3 separate regions of the Homo sapiens genome follow, and regions 1 and 3 are each linked to region 2. The links come from fine-mapping of genetic effects on gene expression. A gene starts in region 2. Each other region holds a variant in brackets. All regions are shown on one strand. Distances are between the middles of the regions. Region 1 holds the start of LOC105378453 (a long non-coding RNA gene). Region 2 holds the start of SFXN3 (sideroflexin 3). Region 3 overlaps TLX1NB (TLX1 neighbor).

Evidence for each region. PIP is the estimated chance that this variant, and not a neighbour inherited with it, causes the effect.
Region 1: its variant is fine-mapped to the expression of SFXN3 in breast (GTEx, PIP 0.94).
Region 3: its variant is fine-mapped to the expression of SFXN3 in sun-exposed skin (GTEx, PIP 0.99).

The regions. Positions count from the first base shown.
Region 1 is chr10:101,281,613-101,289,789 of GRCh38, reverse strand. It overlaps LOC105378453 (a long non-coding RNA gene), which reads right to left and starts at 5,867. Exons shown (of 3, transcript XR_001747306.2): 1 at 5,787-5,867; 2 at 4,466-4,630; 3 at 3,687-4,368. RefSeq lists enhancers at 2,861-3,768, 3,769-4,678. The variant G/T (reference allele first, on the strand shown) is at 3,710.
Region 2 is chr10:101,027,011-101,035,171 of GRCh38, reverse strand. SFXN3 (sideroflexin 3) reads right to left here and starts at 3,938. Exons shown (of 12, transcript NM_030971.6): 1 at 3,638-3,938; 2 at 2,690-2,858; 3 at 317-480. The coding sequence starts at 477. PDZD7 (PDZ domain containing 7) reads left to right here and starts at 4,043. Exons shown (of 17, transcript NM_001195263.2): 1 at 4,043-4,099; 2 at 4,788-5,178. The coding sequence starts at 4,953. RefSeq lists an enhancer at 3,416-3,625.
Region 3 is chr10:101,102,681-101,110,857 of GRCh38, reverse strand. All of the region lies in intron 2 of TLX1NB (TLX1 neighbor), which reads left to right. Among named protein-coding and RNA genes, the nearest start is that of TLX1NB, 24 kb to the left of the region's middle. The variant G/A (reference allele first, on the strand shown) is at 4,764.

The DNA.
Region 1 (8,177 bases), 250 kb before region 2:
AACCAGGCTGTGGGGTGAGAGGGCTGAGCTTCTGAAAGGCAGGGCCAGCCCTAACCACAAATATGCTCCACGATAGCAGGAGAGTGCCGGGCTTGGGGAGTAGTGGCCTCTGAAGGGCATGACCATGAGGGCCCTCATGAAGTGTGACTAGTCTTTGGAGACAGGTGGTGCAGGCCCTTGAGGGGCTATAAGGATGAGCTGAGGGGGCCAGGACTGGGTCAGAACCTATAGGGTCAAGGGAGACCAATGAGAAGATGGAAGAGTTCTGGAAAGGCTAGAGGACCTCATCAGACCTGGCTCTGGATTCAGCTAAGCCTGCTTGTGGCCAGCAGTCAGTGTGGCTGAGTCTAGCACCCATGCTAGCCATGGCTGAGGCAAGGGGAAGGATCATGTCCTCTGTGCCCACTGGGGTGTGTCAGGCAGTCCTTGGAGGCCTTTAGTTGTCTTGGAATCCCTTTGGTGCACATTTATGGTTGTCCCACTTTGCCTCACCCTGTGGGAATGCCATGATGGGCAAGAAAGCCCTTAGAGAGCCTACAGTCTAATGTGGAATAAAGAACTTAAATAAAGACTTAAATTTTTTTTTTTTTTTTTTTTGCTTTGGAAAAAGTAGTGTTGCATAAGCATATACCGCCTGGATCAAAATCCCAGCTGTGCCATTCACCAGCTAAAGTTTGTGAATTCTCAGGCCCTCCTTTCCTCCGTCTGTAGGATAGGGGTACCTATCTCTTAGGATTGTTGTGCAAATCTTAGGAAAAGTCCTTAGAACAGGGCCTGGCCATGGTAACATAAGTGTTGGCTCTCCTAGTCTTTCCTTCAGTTTTGTAGTACAGAGCCTTTGGAAAAGTCTCCCTCTTGGTGTTAGCAGAATTAAGGTAAACAAGGACTTATTCACACCTTGGACAAGATAAGGGGGTGGTTAGAAGACCCTGAGAGGTTGGAGTGTGGTGTGGAGTAGAGGCAGGGAAGGGGCCAGCTTGGGGGTGTGGGAATCCTGGTGTGGGACCGATGGAGCAGTGAGATAGGTTCTTTCTAGGTAGAGCTGAGGGGGCGTACGACAGAAAGGCCCTCTGCAGAGCCCAGCACACTTAGGACAGTTCAGTGCTGCTAGCTCTGCCCCCTCTCCCTGGAGGGACAGCCTCTGCTGGAGCTGCTAGCCCATAGATGTCCAGGGGGGCTGCACGGGAAGATGTCCACCACTACAGGATAATCTCCCTGGAGGGACACCCCCTGCTGGAGCTGCTAGCCCATAGATGTCCGGGGAGGCTGCATGGGTAGGTGCCCACCACTACAGGATAATCAGCACCTCCGCTCTCCTGAGATGGGCCTCTCTAAGCTTCCCTCTCCCACCACTTGACCTCAGGACAGTAGCCCCCTCTGCTGGCCTCCACAGAGCTAGACTGGGCTTGCCTTGACCCATGTCCTTTCTTTCCAGCTGGCTCGCTGGCTCTGATATGAGCCAACTTCATGCTGTGGCAGGACTGAAAGCCTCTAGGGGTCTTAGCCCTTGACTATGGACTTCTGGGGACCTCACTGTCCCCGGTTTGTTTATTCAAATCCCATTGCACCAAATGACTGAGCAGCTGCCAGAAGCTGCCGCTTCTTTATGGGACTGGGTGGGAGGGATGAAATGGGGAAACCTTGGTTACTGTCCAGGGAACAAAGGGTTAAGGCAGGTGAAGGGTGCTGGCATGGGAGTGGGTCACCCCCTCCCCTTCCAGTGATTATTCTCCTCTCCAGGTGTTTTTGTGGCTTTTTTCCCCTCCCTTGGGGTGGGAGTGGGGGCTGCTGGGTCCACTTCGGGCTTAGTTATTGTTTTAATTTTGGTGCTGGCTCCCTGGTGCCTGGAGTGGATAATGAAAGAGGAAAAGAGAGGTCAGGGTGGTGCCCAGGCAGCAGATTTCTGCCCGTCAGCCTGGGCTAGGGCGGGTGGGGAAGTGGCGGGCGGGGGAGTGTTAAGTTAATATCAATAAAGCAACTGGAGTCTCAGAAGTGAGGAGCTGCAGAGCCAAGCACAATGTCTTCATGCTAAGGGAGCCTGAAGGGGCACTTTTCCTGTCCACGATGAATTCTTAAAATGGGGCTGGACAGGGGGCAGGAGTCCAGTGAGCGCACAGGCTGGGTGGGCGCAGCTCAGTGGCAAAGGAGTGACAATGAAACCAGGGAGGAGCTGAGCAGAGAATAAGTCTCGGCTCGGTCTCACGCTCAGGCCGCTTGTCAGCTTTTCCTTCTGCATTGCCCTGTATCTGTTCAACCCCACACAGGGCGGATTTGAGGGGGCCATGCTGTGGGGTTACTGGAGATGGTGATAGATAGAAAAAGGAGGCAGGAAAGTATAGGGGTTGAGATGACAAGCTTTGCTGTCAGACAGACTTGGGTTCCTGGCCAAGTTCTGCTTATTGGCTGTGTGACCTTGGGCAAGTTACTGAACCTTTCTGGGCCTCAGATTCCTGTTCTGTAAGATGACACTAATAGTGATGCCAGCTTCGCAGGGTCATTAACATTGTACTCACCGCAGGGTCATTAACATTGTACTCGCCGGGTGCGGAGGCTCATGCCTGTAATCCCAGCACTTTGGGAGGCCAAGGCAGGTGGATCACCTGAGGTTGGGAGTTCAAGACCAGCCTGACCAACATGGAGAGACCCCTTCTCTACTAAAAATACAAAATTAGCCAGGTGTGGTGGCACATGCCTGTAATCCCAGCTACTAGGGAGGCTGAAGCAGGAGAATCGCTTGAACCCGGGAGGCGGAGGTTGCAGTGAGCCAAGATCGCACCATTGCACTCCAGCTTGGGCAACAAGAGCAAAACTCCGTCTCAAAAAAACAAAACAAAAAAACAAACAAACAAGAAAACATTGTACTAAGTGAATTCAGCACAGCGCTTGGCATGCAGTGAGCACTCAATACATGCTAGCTACCCTGTGAAGCCTGTTTCCTCAGCTGTAAAATGGGGATATCCGTTGTAACTTCCCCATAGGGGTCTTATGGGGAGCAAATTAGATAAAGCCTGTAAAGTGCTTAGCACAATTCCTAGTACATAAATAAGCCCTCAATACATGTTAGCTGTCGTTATTATATTATTTTTATCTTTATTATTCCCTGCTGTCTTGGAACTGGTGATTTAGTTGAGGAGACTGAGGCCAGGCCACTCCCTTGGCCATCTGAGGTATTTGGCTTATATCAAAAGGGCTTTCTGAAGCCCAACCCAACTTGGAGAATACTTCTAGTATTTCTTTCATAATCCTGTGGACAGACAGAAAGTCCCCAGGAGCTGAGATGACTGCTGGATGTGCAGGAGAAAGAGACCCACTTGCGTGACCACATTTGGCCCCAGGCGAAGCGTGCCCGCAACATGGCTGTCCATGGGCAGGCCAAGGGCCTCACTCTGGCCCCCACCCCAAAGTTGAAGACCGTGGGCTGGATGAGGACGCTCACCTGTTTTCCTGTGGGGAGGCTCAGTGGGCATGTCAGAGAGAATGTGGGTCTCAGAAAACCCCCACCCTTATCCCATTCCTTCTCCTCCAATTCCTTTTCTTCTCTCCAGTCTGGGGGTGGGGGTGGGGGCTGAGCAGATAGGAAAAAGAGGGTAGTTAATGCTTCCCACTTGACCTTTCTTTCCCCCACCCCCCACCCCCACCCCCAGCGGGCGGGCAGGCTGAGGAGATGAATGGGGTAGAGGGCACGATTTTCACATTAATGGCAGCATAT[G/T]TTGTGTTTATTGACACTGCAGCGTCGGTGCTTGTGGTGGTTGTGGTAGGGGGGTGCCTAGGAGGCCACAGGCAGGAGGGGGCAAGGGAAAGAGGAGGCAGAGGGGAAGGTTGCCGGCGGGCGGGGAGGGGGAGAGGGAAGGGAGCCTGGGGCCTGGGGGGAGGGAGGCAGGAACAATATTGTTGCAGGAGCACACCAGGTGCTCGCTGTCAGCCCGAACAAAAAGGAAGAGTCAGCAACTCTTGAGGGGGGTGGTGAAGAGGCGGGAGCCACCGCCTGCTCCAGCCTCGCAGCTCCAGCCTTGCAGCCTCTCCCTGTTAACCCCTGCTCTGCCATGCAGCTGAAGAGGGGAGCGACATCTGGGGCTCTCCCCGAGGCCAGGAGCTCCCCCCACTGAGCCCAGGAGCTCCCCCCACTGAGCCCAGGAGCTCCCCACAGTCCTGGTCTCCTCAGAACCATCACTTGCCTTTAGTCACCTGGAAGATGCGGCCGTCTCTGGAGTGGGCAGTGGCAGGAATTGCCTTTGCCTTCCCCAAAGCCGAAGGAAAAGAAGCCCCTCTCTCTGGTCCACCCTTTCCATAACAGTTGGGCCTATGTGGTCCTTGAGGAGTTGGCAAACCAGAGTGGCAGGGCCAATGACCTTGGGCTTCTGAAGGCAGCTGTGGGTGGAGGGATGTGAAGAGGGGATGAAAATGGAGGATGGGTTCTCTGCTGGAGGTGGTCTGTACAGACCCCCACAGCTCCTCTCTCTCTGACCTGGCTACAGACTCCTTGCTTCCTGGATGTCTTCCCAGAGTCCTCTTGCCTGGGGCATGGGGAGGAGGAGGAGTTGGCCACATGGTCTGTTCTGTAGACATGTCTCTCAGTTGACTAAGAAGACTGGGCTCGCTGAGTTAGCCTGGAAAGCGCTGGAGGCCCATCCTAAAATATTCAGGTGTGGGGAGGATAGATGGCAAATGAGTTGCCCACCCCAGAACCCCATTCTGGGGGTCTGGGAGGGCCTCCTGGGTTCCTGGCCGGGGAGCAGAGCTGCAGGTGATGTCTACAGCTGTCACCGTACCCTTCCCTGCCTCCCTTCCTCTTCCTGCAAAGCCCTGCATGGAAGCAAGGTACTTAGGACTGCTTGGATGAGCTTCTCCAATTCGCTTTTCTTGTAGCTCCTCTAGGGCTGAGAGGTTACTATGTAGGGGAGGATGGGTGGGAGAGTCCTCCCAGGAGGGGTGACTGGTCTCCTTTCAATCCAAAGAGTCAAGAGGCTTCTACCTCCAACCCTGAAGGCTGGTCTTCTCGTCTGTGATCTGACATTCTGGAGCCGTCAACTCTTGTGTTGGCTATTCTACAGTACATGTCTTGGTCACGCTAGACGCTGGACGAGGGTGCTAGTTCCCCACCCTTGCACAGCGGGCGGGGCCCATAGAGGGGAAGGGTGTCCTTTCCGTATACCCGCCTCCCGCCCCAACTCTGTCTGGCCACCTGAGTTTAGGCGCAGAGGCCTCCGTGGATCTCCTTACCCCGGGCTGGAGGCGAGGCAGGCACGCTGGCCTGGAACCCTCCTCGACACCCTCATCCTGCAGACAGTCAGGGCCAACTCGCGGTACTTCGACCCGCGGCGCAGTGCGAAACCCCGGGGCAGACCCAGCCGCGCAGTGCCCCTCGCCGCTCGCCTCCCGGCTCCTCCCCGGGGTCCGGCCCCGGTTCGCACCCCCCTTCCGCGGCCCTCTCGCCGGGCTCCAGCTGCGCGCGGAGCGGTCCCCGGCTCGGCTCCAGCTCCTCAATGGCCCTGCTCCCCCATTACCCTGATGTCGGCCCTTCTCCCCCTCGGCTTTATCGGCTCTCAGCCGGCTCCGCCAGGGTAATGAGGGCCCTCCTAATTACCATTGCAGAAACTCCACTTACATTAACAGCTCCATCCGAGGAGCGGCAACATCTGCTGTGCGCAGGCAGGCGCCCCTCCCCCGCCCCTCGCTCCCCGCTCCCCTCTTTCCCGGTCCTTTCCCCCGACCTTCCTTTCCATCCTCTCTGGCCCTTCTCTCCCATCCTCCCCTTCTAATCTCTTCCCTTTTCATGCCCTCCCTACCACCGTGGCAGCCAGGTCCTTTTCCACTTCAGCATCCCAGGATGAGAGAGATCCACATGGGGACAGGGCCCCAGAGATACTGAGAGGAGGAGACACTCAGAGGGGCTGGGCCAGAACTCCAAGAGACCCATAATACTCAGGATCCCAGAAACACAGCCAGACAACCCAGGAACAAATAGAAAGTGGTAGCAGCAGAGACTGGGAAGGAGATGGGCTGTGGAATGGGGCAAACTGCCTGTGTGTGTGTGTGTGTGTGTGTGTGTGTGTGTGTGTGTGTGTGTGGTGGTGGGGGCTCTGACGTCTATCGATGTGCAAAGGTATGCGTAGCGTGCATATGTGTGTATGCACTTGTATCATGGACTTTGCATGCTCATTTATTTAAGCATCATGCATACGTGTGCATGTCAGTGTATCTTTACTTGCATATGTATCTTGTGTACATATGCGAATACATCTATTATGCATTTGCATCATGGGTGCAATAATATATATTTATCGATATGTATCTGTGTGTTTGCATTTTGCAAATCTGTATCTGTGTATATGCATATACTTGTCTTTCATATATGTAATTTTGTAGGTGTATCATTCAAGTGTGACTTGTGTACATGTATGACCCAGGTTCAACGTTATGTGTGCACCACGTGTGGATGCATATGTGCCTCTGGGTGTGTTTGCATCTCTGTATGCATGCCTATGCATGTGTGTATCATCTGTGTAATTATTTGATGAGAGAGGGAGCATGTGTGTGTTCCTGCTCCATGGGGGATGACAGGCAGTTGGGAAGACGCTGAGCCCATTTTATCTGAGGTTAACAGGGGTCACATTTCACTCCTGGAAGTCCCCCACCCTCCTCCCCACTGCATACAATTAAGCCTCAGTGTGGTGGAAAGACAGCCAGTAGACATTAAGAAAGGTCAACAGTATTATCGGCTCCTAATCCAATTAGTTACTGTTTATTTGGGAATCCAGCTCCAGGTCAGCTTCTAGGGAGGAGGCCTGGGAGAAAGGAGGGCATTTGATGGGATGAACTGAAAGAAACTAAGATGGCCAGGGCTGTGGATGGCGGGAGCTGTCCCCAAAGCATCGCCAGTTAATGCACCTCCCACTGGCTATTTTGAAGCTGGGTAGGGGTGGGGATGGGCCTGTGCTTCACAGGAGGGGCTGAGACCTGGGGTTTCATCTCTAGAGATTGGAGTATAAAGGAAGGGGAGTTCTCTCCCTCACCTTGAGAGACTTCCTGCCTCTTTCCACCCTAGCAGGTGGACTGAGAGCTGGGCAGCCTGCTTTGGGGGTGTGGGCAGGTTCCCTTGGGATGGGAGAGTCAGAGGAGGAGATGTTGGGAAATGCACTATTAGTTTTTGAAGCCACTTCATTAATCCTGCCCTCTATTTTATTTCCCTTTTTCTCTTCCCACATCCTTTTCTGAGCCCTAGCCCTCTACTCACTCCCACCTCCATGCCAGGACATGCAGGGACCCTAGCTTAGTCCCATAGAGTCCCCCTTACTGAGTATAAAGAGTGGAAGAGACCTAGAACTTGGCCTTGTGGCCTTGGATAGAGAGTGGCCCAGGAACTGAGGTCTCTGGGCAGAGGGGAATTGGTGGGTTGGTCTTTGCCATGCTCTAACCTCTCAGAGATGGACAGTACCCTGGGATACCCAGGTTATGGGGGAAAGTACTAACAGGAGGAAGAGAGTTGGCTGATGGACTCTCAGGCCAGATCCCAGGGGGCTCTTCATGAGCTCAGCAGTTACGGGTCTGCAGGAACTGACCATCCCCACAAGCAGACCATCCCTACATGCAAATCAGAGTGACAGGATTAGCCATGCTCCTCATGGAGCTCAGTGGGGCCACTTTCGCTTGTTTCTTATGGTTAAGTGCATAGGCCTGAGCCCCTAGGAATCAGACTGCTTGTTCTTCCTGGTTCCAGTAGCTTCCTCTCAAGACAGAAACCCCTCATAATCTGCTTTCTTCTCATTGCCTTTTCCAAGCACATATTCATGAAAACACATACACACACACTTATGAACCTGCCTCTGAAACCCCAGGCCAGAGATGACCAGGGAGCGAAGACAGTGACAGTGGTCCTTATTTAAGGACTTACAATGGATCTAGGTGTTTATAGACTTCTCTAAAGGGTGTTTCCCCACTTTCATCCTCCAAAAGATAACTACAGTGATGATCATACTGAAACAATAATGATGATCATACACATTTTTACCCCAGCTGTTCTCACCATTAGCTGAGCATTGAAATCACCCAGAGAAGCTTTTTAAAAATGTACATACCCAGGCCCCACCCTAGATCATGCCAATCTGGATCTTCAGGGCTGGGTCCCTGGAATCCATATATTTTAGAAAGTTCCACAGATGGTGGCTATGGTTAAATAA
Region 2 (8,161 bases):
TTCCCTCCTATCTTCCTGGGACTCCACTTTGAGCACCTCTATCCTTGCAGAGGGTGACCCCGCAATGGGATAGATCCCTGTAGAGGTTTGTGATGCATAGAGCAGCCCCTCCCATAAATATCAATGCCATCTTCTCAACCCAAATGCCCTAAAATCCTTTGGGTTAAAGCTCTGTGATGCCAACAGACGGGGCTAGAGAGTGAGGGGATTGAGGGACAGGGTCACTGTCAAGCTTGAGGAGGCAGGTACAAAACATATTATATTAATCACAGAAAATGAGATCCTGGCACACAGGGTCAGATTGAGGGGTGGTCACCTGTAGTTCTGCACGATGTTCCGAGAAGCTTCCAGCTGTGCCCCGGACAGCAGCAGATTTCGAGGATCAGTAACAGTGAAAAAGTGCCGGGCTCTGCCCAGGAAAGTACTTTGGTCCCAGCGAGGTTCCTGGATGTTGATGTCTAAAGGCAATTCACCCATTTTCTGCAGGACAGAGATAAGGGTCAGAGCGGGAGTCCAAGGGTCCAAGGGCTCCAGCTAGGGGAAATCTTTGGTGCCCCTGCCCTGGCCCCTGAGCTTATCATCAGTCCCTTCAAGAGCTCAAGGTGACTAGATGTAGGGAAAAGAAAGAGAGATCAGACTGTTACTGTGTCTATGTAGAAAGGAAAGACATAAGAGACTCCATTTTGAAAAAGACCTGTACTTTAAACAATTGCTTTGCTGAGATGTTGTTAATTTGTAGCTTTGCCCCAGCCACTTTGCCCCAGCACTTTGACCCAATCTGGAGCTCACAAAAACATGTGTTGTATAAAATCAAGGTTTAAGGGATCTAGGGATGTGCAGGACGTGCCTTGTTAACAAAATGTTTACAAGCAGTATACTTGGTAAAAGTCATTGCCATTCTCTAGTCTCAATAAACCAGGGGCACAATTAACTGCGGAAAGCCACAGGGACTTCTGCCCTTGAAAGCGGGGTATCGTCCAAGGTTTCTTCCCATGCATAGTCTGAAATATGGCCTCGTGGGATGAGAAAGACCTGACCGTCCCCCAGCTTGACACCCATAAAGGGTCTGTGCTGAGGTGGATTAGTAAAAGAGGAAAGCCTCTTGCAGTTGAGATAGAGGAAGGCCACTGTCTCCTGCTTGCCCCTGGGAACTGAATGTCTCCATATAAAACGCGATTGCACATTTGTTCAATTCTGAGATAGGAGAAAAACCGCCCTATGGTGGGAGGTGAGATATGTTTGCAGTAATGCTGCCTTGTTATTCTTTACTCCGCTGAGATGTTTGGGTGGAGAGAAACATAAATCTGGCTTACATGCACATCTAGGCATAGTACCTTCCCTTGAACCTAATTATGACATAGATTCTTTTGCTCACATGTTTTTTGCTGACCTTCTCCTTATTATCAACCTGCTCTACTACTACATTCCTTTTTGCTGAAATAATGAAAATAATAATCAATAAAAACTGAGGGAACTCAGAGACCGGTGCCGGTGCAGATCCTTGGTATGCTGAACGCCGGTCCCCTGGGCCCACTGTTGTTTCTCTATACTTTGTCTCTGTGTCTTATTTCTTTTCTCAGTCTCTTGTCCCACCCTACTAGAAATACCCACAGGTGTGGAGGGGCAGGCCACCCCTTCAACTAGGTAGGTAAGCAAGGGTGTGGGGAGGAGCTGTTTCCTGGGCAATGTCCCAGCCCAGGGACCTGCAGCCACTGGAGGAGGGGGAAGGGAAGACCAGAAACAGGAAAACAGATCTCCTTGTGCTCTATCCTGGTACAGATTTTCATGAGTGAGGATTTACATATATGTGGTTGACACATAAGCAGCAACAAACATCCCAGCCACGTGTGCTACAGATGCACAAGAATATATAATATATATATTACACACCCATGCTCAGGTGAGCTTTAGGCCCCAGCTGCACTGAGACCTGGATACAAACCCCCAAGGCTGTTTTGGAAAATGGCACAAGACATCCCACACTCCAGTCCCTGATTGGAGGAGAGCAAGGCCTTACTGGCCACCCAGGGCTTATCTGTTCCAGATCTCAATCAGGGGACTCTGATGTCAGCCATGTGTGTGCATGTGGGCACGCACAAGTCCTCTCTACAGACCCATTTTTCTCCAACTCACACTGAATGACCCCAGGCTCTCCCTGGTCCCTGGCCAGGCAGGGCTGGCACAGACACTCATCCACCTCTCTCTGGGCCACTTGCCTCCGGATAAGAGCAGGATTCAGTGGCTGCTCCCTCCACCCAGCACAGAGAGGAAAGCCTGGTGCAGCCATCTGGCTGAGTTGGGCAGAATCCTACAGAATGACTAATCCTCTCCAGCCACACTTCCTCCCGCAGAGGCAGAGACGCCCTCCCCTCACACTCACATACCCACACACAAAGACACTATCATGCACACCCTGCCCAGACATACAGACAGAGTGGAGGTGTCCTGTATACACCGGCCTTCAAACACCTTTACAGGCGCACACTGTGCCCATCTGCAGACACTTGAATGTGTGACTACACACAGCCCCACCCTGACATTCCTCCCCCCAACCTCCCTTGTGCCCTGTGGACTTGGACCTCCACAGAGCCGAGGACATTGACTGCACCAGGACAGACAGTTTCAAGGCAGGCCTCCTTCTCTGACCCCCATTCCAGAACCCCGCCCGCCGGGGAGAGCGAGCACTTACGCTTTCCATCGCTCTCTGAAGCTCTCAGAACCGCCTTCCTCTCTGCCTCCGCTGTCGCCGCCGGGCCCTCCCAGCCATCACGCGGGACGTCACGCGTGACGCCGACCAGCAGGGAGGGGCAGGAGCTTCCCGGCCGCGCCCACCCGGTGGGCACGGGGATTGGCAGAACCTGAGGGCGGTGGGTGTCATTCGAGGCGATGCCCCCAGCCTGGGCCACCTGGACCAGGCCCTAAGCTGCTTCCCAGAGCCAATCCCACCTCGGGGATCAGTTCTGGCCCCCTCCCCAGCCAAAGGGAGGAGGGGCTGGAGCCGCGGGCGCTGCTCCCTTGGTTTACAGTCCCCTGGCGGGCCTCAGCAGACCCCCAGCCCTGCAGCAAGCGGTCTAGGTGCCCAGAGAGAAAGCCCCGGGCGCAGGTGGGCGGTGTGGAGGGGCGGTCCTCTGCTGGCGCGCCGGGAGGGACTCGGGTTACCGCCTGGCTTGTTTACTTGATGGCTGCCTTGGCAATGGCCTTTGGCTTGCTTGTCCCCCTGGGCTCCTACCCCAGTATCCACAAGCTCCTCTTGTAGCAGCGCGGCATTCGCATCACTTCACAGCCCCGTTCCTGTCGTGCCTGTGCCTCTTCTATGTCCCCAGCCCTCTCCCTGCTCCCCCTCTGTAACCCCTAGCTCCACTGTGTCCCTGGTCTCCTTACGCTCCCAACCCCTAGCCCTGCACCCCAGACCGTAGCCCCACCCCTGAGATGTGGAGGGGCAGACGACCCCAGGAACCTCGCGGTCTGCATCCGAGCAAGTGCATCAGAAGGATTCTTAGGATTCTTCCGGTCCTGGGACCAGCTGCCCCACCCTGCGACCATTCCAGAACTGGGTAGCCAGAGACGCCTTCTGACAGAGGAGGAGGATGCAAGTGAAGAAGGCACCCCCTCCGCCACGCACATACTCACAACTCACCCAGCCACCACACAGAGCACGCCTGCAGCAAACTCAGGCTCACGTCCCGCTCTGCCCCGTGACGTCCCTCCACGGAGGCCTCAAGGGTGCCCAGGGAGGGGTGGCAATTCCAGGAGCCCCGGTAGCTGGCTCGGCTCAGAGAAGAGGTGGTTCGAGCCGGAGGGGAACAAGCCAGACCCAAGCCCTAAATTTGCGGAATGAGCTAGGGCGTCAGAACCAGAACTGGGGTGGGTAAAGAACTCCGCTGCCCGGGACCAGGTAACGCTCGGCTGTCCCTGGCGCCTAAGGGAGGTGCCGGAATAGAATGACTGGCGGCCCTACCAGCCAATGGGAGCCCGGGGCGGTGCAGGCCAGCCCAATTCCCGCAGCCTCCGCGCAGCGTGGGTGGGGTTTGCCGGCTGCGGCAGTAGCTCTCGCCTGCGGGTGGTTTGACAAGGCTGGCGGCGCCACACCAGCGACCAGGTGAGGCCGACCAGGCACAAAGGGGTGGGGGGCCTGGAGGGCCGAGTTGATGTTGGGGTGCTTCATTCTAGGTCCCAGAGCTTCTCTGAGGGAACTGGCCCTGGGTTTTGCGCGGGATGTCGTGGGACCCCTCTCCAGCAGATCCTCCCCAAAGCTTGGGAGAGGTTCATGCAGCCTCTTTAGACCCGGAGCCGCAGCCTGGAGCCCGCGGGTGTCTGGGGGTCTTCCTGGGCCTCAGCTGTCTAAGGTCCTGAAGCCCTATCCTCGAGGCCCAGCCCGCCCCACGCAGCCCCCGCCCCACCCCGGGCCACCTCCATGCCCGCATATGCATGAGAGAGGTGATGCCATGAGCTGTCCTGACCTCTCTTTTGTCTCACACCTCTCTAAGCCCCAGGGCCCGCAGTAATCCCAACTCCACTCTCAACCTCTACTGAGGACTGGGGACGGGAGTAGATGACTCAGCCCCGAGCAGGAATGAGGGGTGAAAGGTTCCCACCTGCCTTGTATAAAGTCAGCGAGAGTCCAAGATGGTGCCTGGACGGGGCAGTTCTCTGGCCTAGGGTGAGACAGGAGGGGGGCCTAAGGCATGGGAGGGCAGGATGCTTAAACCAGGGGGAGGGGTGGAAGTTTTAGGGGGCAGCAGGGGAAACATTTACACCCCTCCCTCATCCCTGCTCTCCCTGCCCAGGCCTGGAGCTCACACTTCTGAGAGGCATCGCAAGCGAGGGCCTTCACGTTACTGAGACCCCAGCCCCGCACAGAGGCTCATGGAGCTCGAAGCACGCAGGGCTGGCCTCTCCAGAGCTAGCAGATTCCTTCTGGACCTGTAGGGTGCCGCCCTAGCCCAGCCGCCATGGCGCAGGGTTTCGCAGTGGGCTTCGACCCACTGGGCCTAGGAGACCTGAGCTCCGGCTCTCTGAGCTCCCTCTCCTCCCGAGGCCACCTAGGCAGCGACTCAGGCTCCACCGCAACGCGATACCTGCTAAGGAAGCAACAACGGCTGCTGAACGGGCCCCCCCGCGGAATCCGAGCCTCATCGCCCATGGGACGCGTCATCCTCATCAACTCCCCCATCGAAGGTAGGGGCGGGACCCAGCCACTGGCCTGGGTTGGGGAGGGTGGGGGTAGGGGACAATGGGAACTCAGCAGGAGGAGGCAGAGCCAGTATGATTGGGGGAATTCAAGAGATGGGAGTCACAGGGAGGTGGCAGGCCGCCTGGGAACCCATACACTCTTCCTCACCTGCCCTTGGCCTCTCCTCCAGGCCAATCCTGCAGGGGTCCAGGGTCGTAGAAGGGTCAGAGGAGGGAAAGAAGGCCATGGCAGCAGGGACAGGCATGCGTGTGGTATGCTAGCCCCTGGTGGACAAGGCAGGGGATTGAACTGGCCTCTCTCCCATGGGCTCTGCCCTTCTCCAGATCCATTGTGTGTACTTCTGGGGGATGGGGCAGGATAAAGAAGGACATCCTCCATCAACCAGTCCATTGTGTGACAAGCTCTGTGCTGGGCTGCGAGGAGTCAGTGCCCAAGCGGGTAGACAGAATTCAGGGCTTCCGTGCTGAAGGAGGGGAATGAAGGCAGCACAGCAAATGTTCAGAAGAGGAGGGTTGAGGGTGGAGAGGGAGCTCCATCAGGGAAGGGGAGACCTAAGCTTATGTAGTTGCTTAATGCCGCTTCATGGAGCACAATTCTATACCAGCCCTGGGGAGGTGTTACAAGGGACCTAGAGAGAAATCAGGCTCCCTCTTCACCTTCCAGGAATCTACAGTGTAGCAGGACAGAGCAATAAGAACAGCTGGTGGCAGGGGTGAGCTGTCACCAACAAAGGCTGGAAGTGAAAAGCATGGAGCATGGTAGGTGGGCACTTAGGAGCCAGCCTGGCTGTAGTGACAGATGTGAGGTGACTAACAGCTGATGAGCAAGACAGGACCTAGAATGCCAGGTGCGGAGCCAGGCCCCCTGAGTCTGAGCTTTCTGTGAGCAGGACCAGATAAATATCTCCAGCTCCTCTCCTCTTTCTTAGCCAGCAGAGCTCCCCTGGCTGGATCCCAGACTGGACTGTTCAGGCCCTGCTCCTCCCCCTCTGACCCAGCAGGGCATCTCTCTTCCCCTCCCTAGGCCACTGGAGCAGGGTGGGGCATGTTGCTCAGGGAGCAGGCTTTCCTCCACCAGTGCCCTGGCACGCTCACCCCTGTCATACACCAGTCTATGCTTCACCCTCTGGTGAGCACAGGGCACTGCTGAGGGTCACCACGGTCATTCTGGTGAGGGAGCAGAAGTCCCCAGAGGAGTTAGGAGACATTGGGGAAAAGGGAAGCAGGCACCGCATAACTGTCTTTATTAGTCCCATTCTATTAAAAGAACTATGCTATACTCCCTCTGATACACTCTTTCTGTTTCTCTCTCTCTCCCCTTCCCTTTGCCCATGTATGATGCAAGCGCTGTTTATAACGTCTTTTTTTTTTTTTTTAAGAGGGAAAGGGTCTTGCTCTGTCGCTCACCCAAGCTGAAGTGCAGTGGTGTGATCATAGCTCACTGCAGCCTCAAACTTCTGGGCTCAAGTGATCCTCCAGCCTCAGCCTCCTGAGTAGCCAGAACTATAGGCATGCAACACCAAGCCCAGCTAATTTTATTTTATTTTATTTTTTGTAGAGACAGAGTTTCACCATGTTGCCCAGGCTGGTCTTGAACTCCTAGGCTCAAGTGATCTTCCGGCCTCAGCCTCCCAAAGTGCTGGGATTATAGGCATGAGCCACCATGCCTGGCCTATACTGTCCCTCTAAAGATCCTCTTCCAGGGGTTTCATGATTGCTTTCTCCCTCTGCCTCATGCTAGCGCCACTGTGCAGCCAAGGAAGCAGCATCTCCTAGCAGTGAGGGACTGAGGAGTTGCTCTGACCACTTGGCTTCTCCTCTGACTGGACTGGGACCCTCTGAGCTCAGAATTCTCCCCTCTGCCTGAGAACAGGTATCTCCCAAGTCACCGCAGCCTGGAACCCTGCCCCATGTTATTATTTAGATCACTCCCGGGGAGTAAAGTAACTGATAAGGAATAAACGGTGACATTGCCACCTACATCGGCCCCATGAGATCCCACCAGCTCCTTAAATTCAACTGGTCCCAGAGAAAATGCATTACCTTTAATCCAGGAAAGCATTACCCTTAATGCATTTCTCCTCACTCTCCTAGTTTGACCATCCATCCATCCATTTATTCTTTCACTTATTCAAAAAAAATACCTATCAAATACCAAGCACTGTCCAACATATTGGAGATATACTAGAAGAGTATTACGAAGTCCCCACCATGATTGAACTTATGGTCTAGTGAAAAGAGACAGATAAATCACAAATAAGCGAACGACGACAAAGGATGGGAAGAGTCAGAATGTGATCATCTGATGACATGATAGAATGGTGCTTCTCAAACCTCAGATGCCTCAGAATTGCCGGGAAGGCTCATTCAGGGATAGATTGCAGGGCTCAGTCCCAGAGCTTCTGGTCCAGTGGGTCTGTGGTAAAGCGAAGGAATTCCCGTTTTTAGCAAGTTCTCAGATGACACTGACGCTGCTGATCCAGGATTACGCTTTGAGAAGCCCTACAAGAGGTACTCACTGGGAGGAAGGGAGGACACTCCAGGAAGCCTTCTCCAAGAAAGTGGTGTCTGAGCCAGGAGGGGAACGAGGAAGAGGAGCTGACCTTCTAAAGGCCTGGGCAGGAGCACTGCAGGCAGAGGGAACACTGGAAGGGCTTGGCCTCCATGAGGAACAGGAAGATCAGTGTGGCCAGAGCTCAGTGAGGGAGGGGAGGGTGGAGGGGAGGGCGGAGGGGTGGGCAGAGGAAAGCCCAGGCAGGGCCTTATAGGGCATGGTGAGGAGACTGGAGTTCTAGAAGCAGGAACAGGTGTTGAAGTTTTTAATCAGGGAAAAGACATGAGCTAATGTAAAAGCTGACTCTGGGTACTGTATAGAGAATAGCTAAAGGCGGCAAGAGTGGAAGCAAGGATAGTGCCGGGGCTGCAGTGGAGCACCTGGGGGAGAGGCTGGGGCAGTGGAGGTAGAGAA
Region 3 (8,177 bases), 76 kb before region 2:
AGGATGGGAGCTCTGAGCAAGCCCAGCTTCCTCAAGCACTCCAGATGCTCGCAGTTACCAAAGTTAAGTGTCTACAAACAGACTGAAAGGATGGACAGAGCCACAAAGCCCCTCTAATGGGGGAAGGGTCAGACAATGTTCCTCCTTTTATTATTATTATTATTATTATTATTATTATTATTATTATTAACTCCTGGCTTCAAGTGATCCTCCCCACTTGGATTCCCAAAGTACTGGGGTTACAGGCGTGAGCCACCGTGTCTGGCCACCTGCTCCTCCTGTTAAAGGGATGAGAAACATTAACATGCTCACGTAGATACACAAAATAAAAAACATTTGTTGAACACCTACCATGTGCTGGGGGATGTTCTAAGAGTTTTACATGACTTAGTTCACTTTAACCTTCACAGCAATCCTATGGAGTAGGTATTATCCCCATTTTATTTTTTTATTTTTTATTTTTTTATTTTAGAGAGGCGGGCAGCTTGCTCTGTCACCCAGACTGGAGTGCAGTGGTGCCCCACCATGCCTGGCTAATTATCCCCATTGTTTTTATTTATTTATTTATTTTTGTTCTGTGGAGATGGGGTCTCACTATCTTGTCCAGGCTGGTCTCAAACTCCTGGGCTCAAGCTGTCCTCCTGCCTCAGCCTCCCAAAGTGCTAGGATTACAGGTGTGAGACACCTGGCCTAATTGTCCCCATATTAAAGACAGAATGACTGAGACACAAAGAGGCTAAGTAACTTGCCCAAGATCATATCTCCAGTAGATACTGAATTCAGGATTCAAACCCAGGCAGCATGGCTACTGACAGCGTGCTCTTCACCACCGCTTTACAATATTTGCATAATTCCCCTGAAGGATATACACAGCCACTCATATTTAGGACAGGCCACCTCACATACATAATTGTGCATAGAAATACATCATTACCTAGTTGTTTATCATAACTAACATTTATACAGCAATTTATTTACAAATCACTTTCACACCCAGAAACAATGCCCAGTGAAGGATGGGTTGTTAACTATTTAACAGATAACAATTAAGACTACGTTTACTGACTCAACTGGGGCTCAGCTATTTGGCTGGGAGCGGTTCATCTTTTCTTTTCTTTCCCTTCCTTTCTTTAAATAAAAATAAAGCATGCTTCATAGTAAAATTAAAACAGGACAAAAGAGAATAAAGTGAAAAGTAAAAGGCTCCCTCCTTCCTCCTGTTATTCCCATTTCTGGAGGTATGCCCTTCCAAAAATTGTCAGTGCACACGTAAGTAAACAGTAATAGAGATTATACATGGCTTCTCATTCTTGCGAGGAAGTCTTTGTGGAGAACCCCTTGTTCTCCTCATTTTACACATTAAGAAATCTCTGGCCGGGCACGGTGGCTTATGCCTGTAATTCCAGCACTTTGGGAGCCTGAGGCAGGTGGATCACGAGGTCAGGAGTTCAAGACCAGCCTGGCCAAGATGGTGAAACCCCATCTCTACTAAAAAATACAAAAATCAGCCGGGCGTGGTGGCAGGCACCTGTAATCCCAGCTACTCACTCAGGAGGCTGAGGCAGAGACTTGCTTGAACTCAGGAGGCAGAGGTTGCAGTGAGCCGAGATCGTGCCACTGCATTCCAGCCTGGTCGAAGAGCAAGACTCCATCTCAAAAAAAAAAAAAAAACAAAACTCTTAAGAGTGGGGTACTGCGTTTTATTTTTATTTTTTTTTGAGATGGAGTCTCGCTCCATCCACAGGCTGGAGTGCAGTGGTGTGATCTTGGCTCACTGCAACCTCCGCCTCCAGGGTTCAAGCCATTCTCCTGCCTCAGCCTCCCGAGTAGCTGGGATTACAGGCATGTGCCACCACACCCGGCTAATTTTTGTACTTTTAGTAGAGATGGGGTTTCGCCATGTTGGCCAGGCTGGTCTTGGACTCCTGACATCAGGTGATCCGCCTGCCTCGGCCCCCAAAATACTGGGATTACAGGCGTGAGCCACCGCGCCGGCCCGGTACTGTATTTTAACAAGCTCTCTAGGAAAAAAGTGGCATAGCTCTCCAAGGCCACTCAGGTACTAAATGGAAGTTAGGATTTCAGCCCAAGTCTTCCCGACCTGGAGCCCATGTCCCCCACTGCCCTTGCCCCAGGGCCCATTGCCTCCTCCATCCCCTGTTGGCACCTGCTGGCTCAACACCCCTAGAGCCAAGACTCTGCTGCTCTGAGCCTTTCAGGGTAGGGCGAGGGCCGCGCTGGAAAAGGACATTCCCTTTGGAAACTTAATCTAAGGGAGGACTTGCTGAGCTAAGCCCTGCTGAGGGGGAGGCCAGGGAGCAGGCCTGGGGACTTGACTGAGACCCAGATCAGCCAAGGGATGGGCTCCCAGGATGCCCCCTCAAGCCCCCGGCAGGCTTCACTGCGGCCTTGAGGGCTATGGAGAGTGGCAGGTAACAGGCCTCAGTCTCCACAGTAGCTCCAGCCAGGGACTCAGGATAGGGAGAGGAGGCGGGGTCTGGGGCTCCCAGGGAGAAGAGGGGCCTGTAGATGAGAACTGCAGCCCCCCAACAACATCCGCCTCTGGGAGAGGGACTGAGCGGGGGCAAGAAGAGTATCATTTCCAGCTTCTGGGGTGAAAGGGGGCTCTGGAAGCCCCTGCCCCTGCTGTGACCCCTCCTGGGTAAGTTTCCCCAAGGGCCGCTCAGACCCGTCCTCAGCTCTTCCATTCAGGGCCTGGGTCCCTGGCAGGGCTGGGACCTTAGGAGACAAAATTGCTAAGACTCAGCCATAAACCCAGCTGCTGAGGATGTATGTGTATTTGTTACGAATGTCTCCAAGTGGCTGGCCACAGTGGTGCCACGGCATTCTGACCCAGGTGGCCTAGGCTGGTCATGCAGGACTTTGCTGGGTCTTGCGTGCCTCAGGCCTGGACCCAGTCCTCACACCTCCCGTCCTAGTGTGGAATCTGGAGAACAGGCCAGGGCCAAGGCCAGGATGGAACCTATCTTCCCCCAGAGGACACTTTGGAACAGGGTACTCAGTGAGGTGCCCCCTTCCTATCTGGCCAAGAGGGAGCTTGCCAGGAATCAGGGATTCCTGAGGTCAGTACTCGGTGGAGGGAGAGACAGCCACGGTGAGACTTGCAGAAGCCAGAGGGAGACTGAGATTGGACTCCTCTCTCCACAATTTCCAGGCCAGGCCAACCCAGGGGACAAGGCAGGCCTCCCTGAAAGCCCACCCTCTCCCTCCTTGGTTCATGGCAGAGCCTCCCCAGTCCCTATCACCTTAAGGATCATGCCTGCACACCCTAACCTAGACATGCTACCTTTGAAGCGCCACAGCTCTGTTGTGATCAAGGTGGGCCTGCATGGGACACCCCGCTTCTCTCTCGGATGCAGTAGCACTGCACTGGGCATCAGAGGGCATAGGACTGAGCATAAGCTCAGCTTGGCTTCTAACTGACTGAGGGATTTTGGACAAGTCACCTCCCTACTCTGAGCTTCAATTTGGCCACCTGTAAAACATGAGAGTTGAACTTCATTTCGAATCGTGGGAATCTGGGTTTGAGCTGGGGAGTGTGGGGTTGGCCATGGGTGTTCTTCTTGGTGAACAGAGCAAGGAGCAGAGTAGAGACCCCTAGGAGATATTACTGGTCAAGAAGAGAAGATGTATGTGTATTTGCTATGAGTGTATTTATGATCATATATAGTATGTGACGTGTACATATACATGTGGAAGCATAAATACACATGTAAGGGTGTGTGTGTGTGTTTGTGTGTGTGTGTGTGTGTTTACGGCAGCAGCTAATTGATCCCTGCCTCCCAGTTGCTGTGGGGGAAGGGGCCGAGAAGGCAGTCACTCATTAGAGGCAACTAATGGGCCCAAATGGCCTTGTCAGCAAAGGCTGAGCTTAGATGAGCTTCCTCCCGAAGTGGGGAAGGAAAAAGATGTGAAATAGAAAAAGGAGGGGAGAAGAGAGCAAAGAAGGCGGGCAGAGGCCTCAGAAAGAATGAGGCTTCCCCAGGAGAAACTACAAGGATTGCAGTATCCTCACTTTATCCCTGTTAATAAATATTCCTCCTGCCAAGAGAAAAAGTTCCTGCTTTTTCTGACCCAAGGAAGTAGAGGGCAGAAAACTGTCAAGGGAAGAAAGGCAGACACATGTGTATTCCCATGCCCACAAGCACAGGTGTGCTAGCTGCATGCATATGGCCACACTGAGACGCAAGCATGTGGGCTATGTCGATGTGCAGTCTCAACACTTGTCATGCACGTGCTTACCCAGAGACACCCCCCCCACACACCAGCCTGAGCATAGGGAAGTGTGGGCATGTGCCTGGCACGGGAAGGTGTATGCGCATTCACCCAGGGGTGCTGGCTCTGTGTTGGTGCAAGGGAGACAAAAATGAGGAGGACACAGTCCCTGTCCCCCAGCTGACATTTTATTTTATTTTATTTTATTTTATTTTATTTTATTTTATTTTATATTTATTTTGTTTTATTTTTGAGATGGAGTTTCGCTCTTGTTGTGCAGGCTGGAGTGCAGTGGCATGATCTCGGCTCACTGCAACCTCCACTTCCTGGGTTCAAGTGATTCTCCTGCCTCAGCCTCTTGAGTAGCTGGGACTACAGGCGTGTGCCACCACACCCATCTAATTTTTTTGTATTTTTAGTAGAGATGGACTTTCACCATATTGGCTAGGCTGGTCTCGAACTCCCAGCCTCAGGTGATCTGCCCACCTCAGCCTCCCAAAGTGCTGGGATTACAGGCGTGAGCCACC[G/A]TGCCTGGCCCTCCAATGGACATTGTAGTTGGGAAGAGGTTGCTTGCTAAGGAAACGGATCATTTATATGATGACACAGGGTGTACTGGAAAGATGCCCAGCGTGACTGTAGTCCCCGCTACTTGAAGGGTGACATGGGAGGATTGCTTTAGCCCAGGAGGTCAAGGCTGCAGTGAACCCTGATGATGCCACTGTACTCCAGCATGGGCAAGAGGAGGAGACACCATCTCTAAAGAAAAAGAAATTAAATTAAAATAAAATTGTGTGTGTGTGTGTTTGGTCTGTCACCCAGGCTGGAGGGCAGTGGCAAGATCATAGCTCACTGCAGCCTCGAACTCCTGGGCTCAAGCAATCCTCCCACCTCAGTCTCCAGAGTAGCTGGGACTACAGGCACACATGCCACCATGCTTGGCTAAATTGTTTATTTTATATTGTGTAAAGATGGGAGTCTTGCATGTTGCCCAGGCTGGTCTCAAACTCCTGGCCTCAAGCAATCCTCCTTCCTCGGCCTCCCAAAGTACTAGGATTACAAGCATGAGACACTGCACTCAGCCAAAATACAACACATATTAATAACCAGAATTAAGAATTTCCAACACATTAATAAGAAAAATATTTTTGAAACCCCAGTTTTTAAAATAGGCAACTGGGCACGGTGGCTCACCCCTGAAATCCCAGCACTTTGGGAAGCTGAGGCAGGTGGATCACCTAAAGTCAGGAGTTCAAGACCAGCCTGGCCAACATGGCGAAACCCTGTCTCTACTAAAAATACAAAAATTAGCTGGGTGTGGTGGCAGGCACCTTTAACCCAAGCTACTCGGGAGGCTGAGGCAGGAGAAGCTCTTGAACTTGGGAGGCAGGGGTTGCAGTGAGCCCGGATCGCCCACTGCATTCTAGCATGCATGACAGAGTGAGACTTTGTCTCCAAAGATAAAAATAAAAATAAAATGGGCAAAGTATATGAAGAGGTGACTTACAGAAATAAAAACACAATGTCCAATGAACTTAGGAAAATATGCTCAACATGAGAGAAATGCAATCATAATTTGAGAACTACAAATTAAAATAGACATAAGATTTGTTTTAGCTTCATCCATTGGATTAGCAAAAATTCAACGTACTGACAGTATCCAGCATGGGAGAGAGTGTGTACGTAAGTTGGTCTTCTCATCCTCTCTTGGAAGTGCCCTGAATTGGTTCAGTCTTCTTGATAGGTATTTTGGCAGTTTCTATTAAAATTAACAATACCCATCTTCATTTGACCAACTCTATTTCTAGATATCCATTATCCTAACAAAATAGCCATGTCTGCCCACAGAACCACATACCAGAGAGTTCACTAAGCAAATTTACAACAATGAAAAATCAGAAGCAACCTAACAGTCCACCAGTGGGAATGGGTGAATAAACAGTGGCACCCCCATCTATGGAATACTTAAGGTGAAGCAATTAAAAATAATGAGGTAGACCTCCATGTTCTGATATGGGAAAATGTGCATGCCATATTTTCATTCCAAGCCATATATATAGATAGATAGATACATTTTTTTTTGAGATGGAGTCTAGCTCTGTCACCCAGGCTGGAGCGCAGTGGCACGATCTCAGCTCACTGCAACCTCCACCTCCCAGGTTCAAGTGATTCTCCTGCCTCAGCCTCCCGAGTAGCTAGGATTACAGGCACCCGCTACCATACCTAGCTAATTTTTGTATTTTTAGTAGAGACGGTGTTTCACTGTGTTGGCCAGGCTGGTCTCAAACTCCAGACCCCATGATCCGCCTGCGTCGGCCTCCCAAAGTGCTGGGATTACAAGCGTGAGCCACCGCTCACTGGAAAAGCAAATTGCAGAAAAACAAAAATACTCAGGTACAAAGGTAAAAACCCAACAAAAAAATCGTATGTTTCTCCTTGAATAATATATACATGTAGGTAAATGCGTAGGAAATGATCTAGAAGGATACACAGTGAATTGACCACAGCAGTGACCTCTGCAGATGATTCTGGAATTGGAAGGATTATTTCATCTGTATTTCTTACAACAAGAATGCATTTTTAGTTTACTTTTGAAATTTAAAGTAAATTTAAATAAATGTGGTTCATTTGAATAAATGAATTAACAAAAGTTTCAGCAGTGAGTCTTGACATACACAAACACGAGGCACTAAGATTTTTATTCATTGCATGAAGAAAGAGGCCCCTTTTTGGCAGCAATTCTGCTTTAGCAAATGTCACAAGGACCCGCCTCCCATTCCACCCCTGGAATGTTAAAATTGGGGGCTGTCTAGACTGTTAGAGGGCTAAAGACCTTCAGTTTACACAGGTAAGGAAAGATGGCCAGGGCCCAAGTCATAGCTTCAGAAAGATCACAAAAGGCCCATGGAAGGCGGAGAGTGGCAAGGTGACTGTATTCTTGTTTGACTTGCAATTTGTCATCTTAGGGACAAGTCCAGGCCCAGGGGCTCATGGCTGTACTCACAGCACCTGGATTCGGTCCTAGTAATTCATGATAAATATTGAGTGACTGCTGGCACTAACAGTCACTTACATCAGGCAGCTCTTTGCAGTTGATACAATCCTGCCTTGCACATTTCCTCATTTGTTCCTCATAACCTCTGAGAGGTAGCTTCTACTGCCATCCCCATGTCACAGATGAGGAAACTGAAGTTCAGAGAGGTCAGACTTGGCCACGTTCACTCAGATAACAAGAGGCAGAGCAAGACTCAACTGCAGTCCTTTTGACCTCCTATCCCTAACTCCACTGTGGCAAAATCCCCCTGGGGTTACCATCTGCTCCCTCCCTCAGCTTTCTGGGTATGAGCCTTAGCCCTGGCCTGACATTTTCTCTGGGAAAAATCCAGTGAGGCTGATCCTAGGCAGAGGACTTAACTGAGCCTTGGTTGCTGATGAGGACTATGACAGGCAGTGCAGTTCAGTGGTGAAGATGCACGAGGCTCCAGTCCCAATTCCTAGCTGAGTGACCTTGGGCAAGTTATTTAACATCTTTGCCTATTTCTTCATCTGTAAAATAAGAATAGGAGAACCTGGCCAGTCACAGTGGCTCACGCCTGGAATCCCAGCACTTTGGGAGGCTGGGGCAGGTAGATCATTTGAGGTCAGGAGTTTGAGATCATCCTGGCCAACATAGCGAAACCCCATCTCTATTAAAAATACAAAAATTAGCCAGGCAGTAGTGGAGTGTGCCTGTAATCCCAGCTTCTCAGGAGGCTGAGCAGGAGAATGGCTTGAGCCTGGGAGGGGGAGGTTGCGGGTGAGCCGAGATCGCACCACTGCACAATCTATCTCTTGGAGATGTGAACATACACTGAGATAATACATATAAAGTCCTTAGTTTGGTGCCCAACATACTATTAGCTCTCACCAGATGCTCAAGATGATGGCAATTGATTACAGAATGG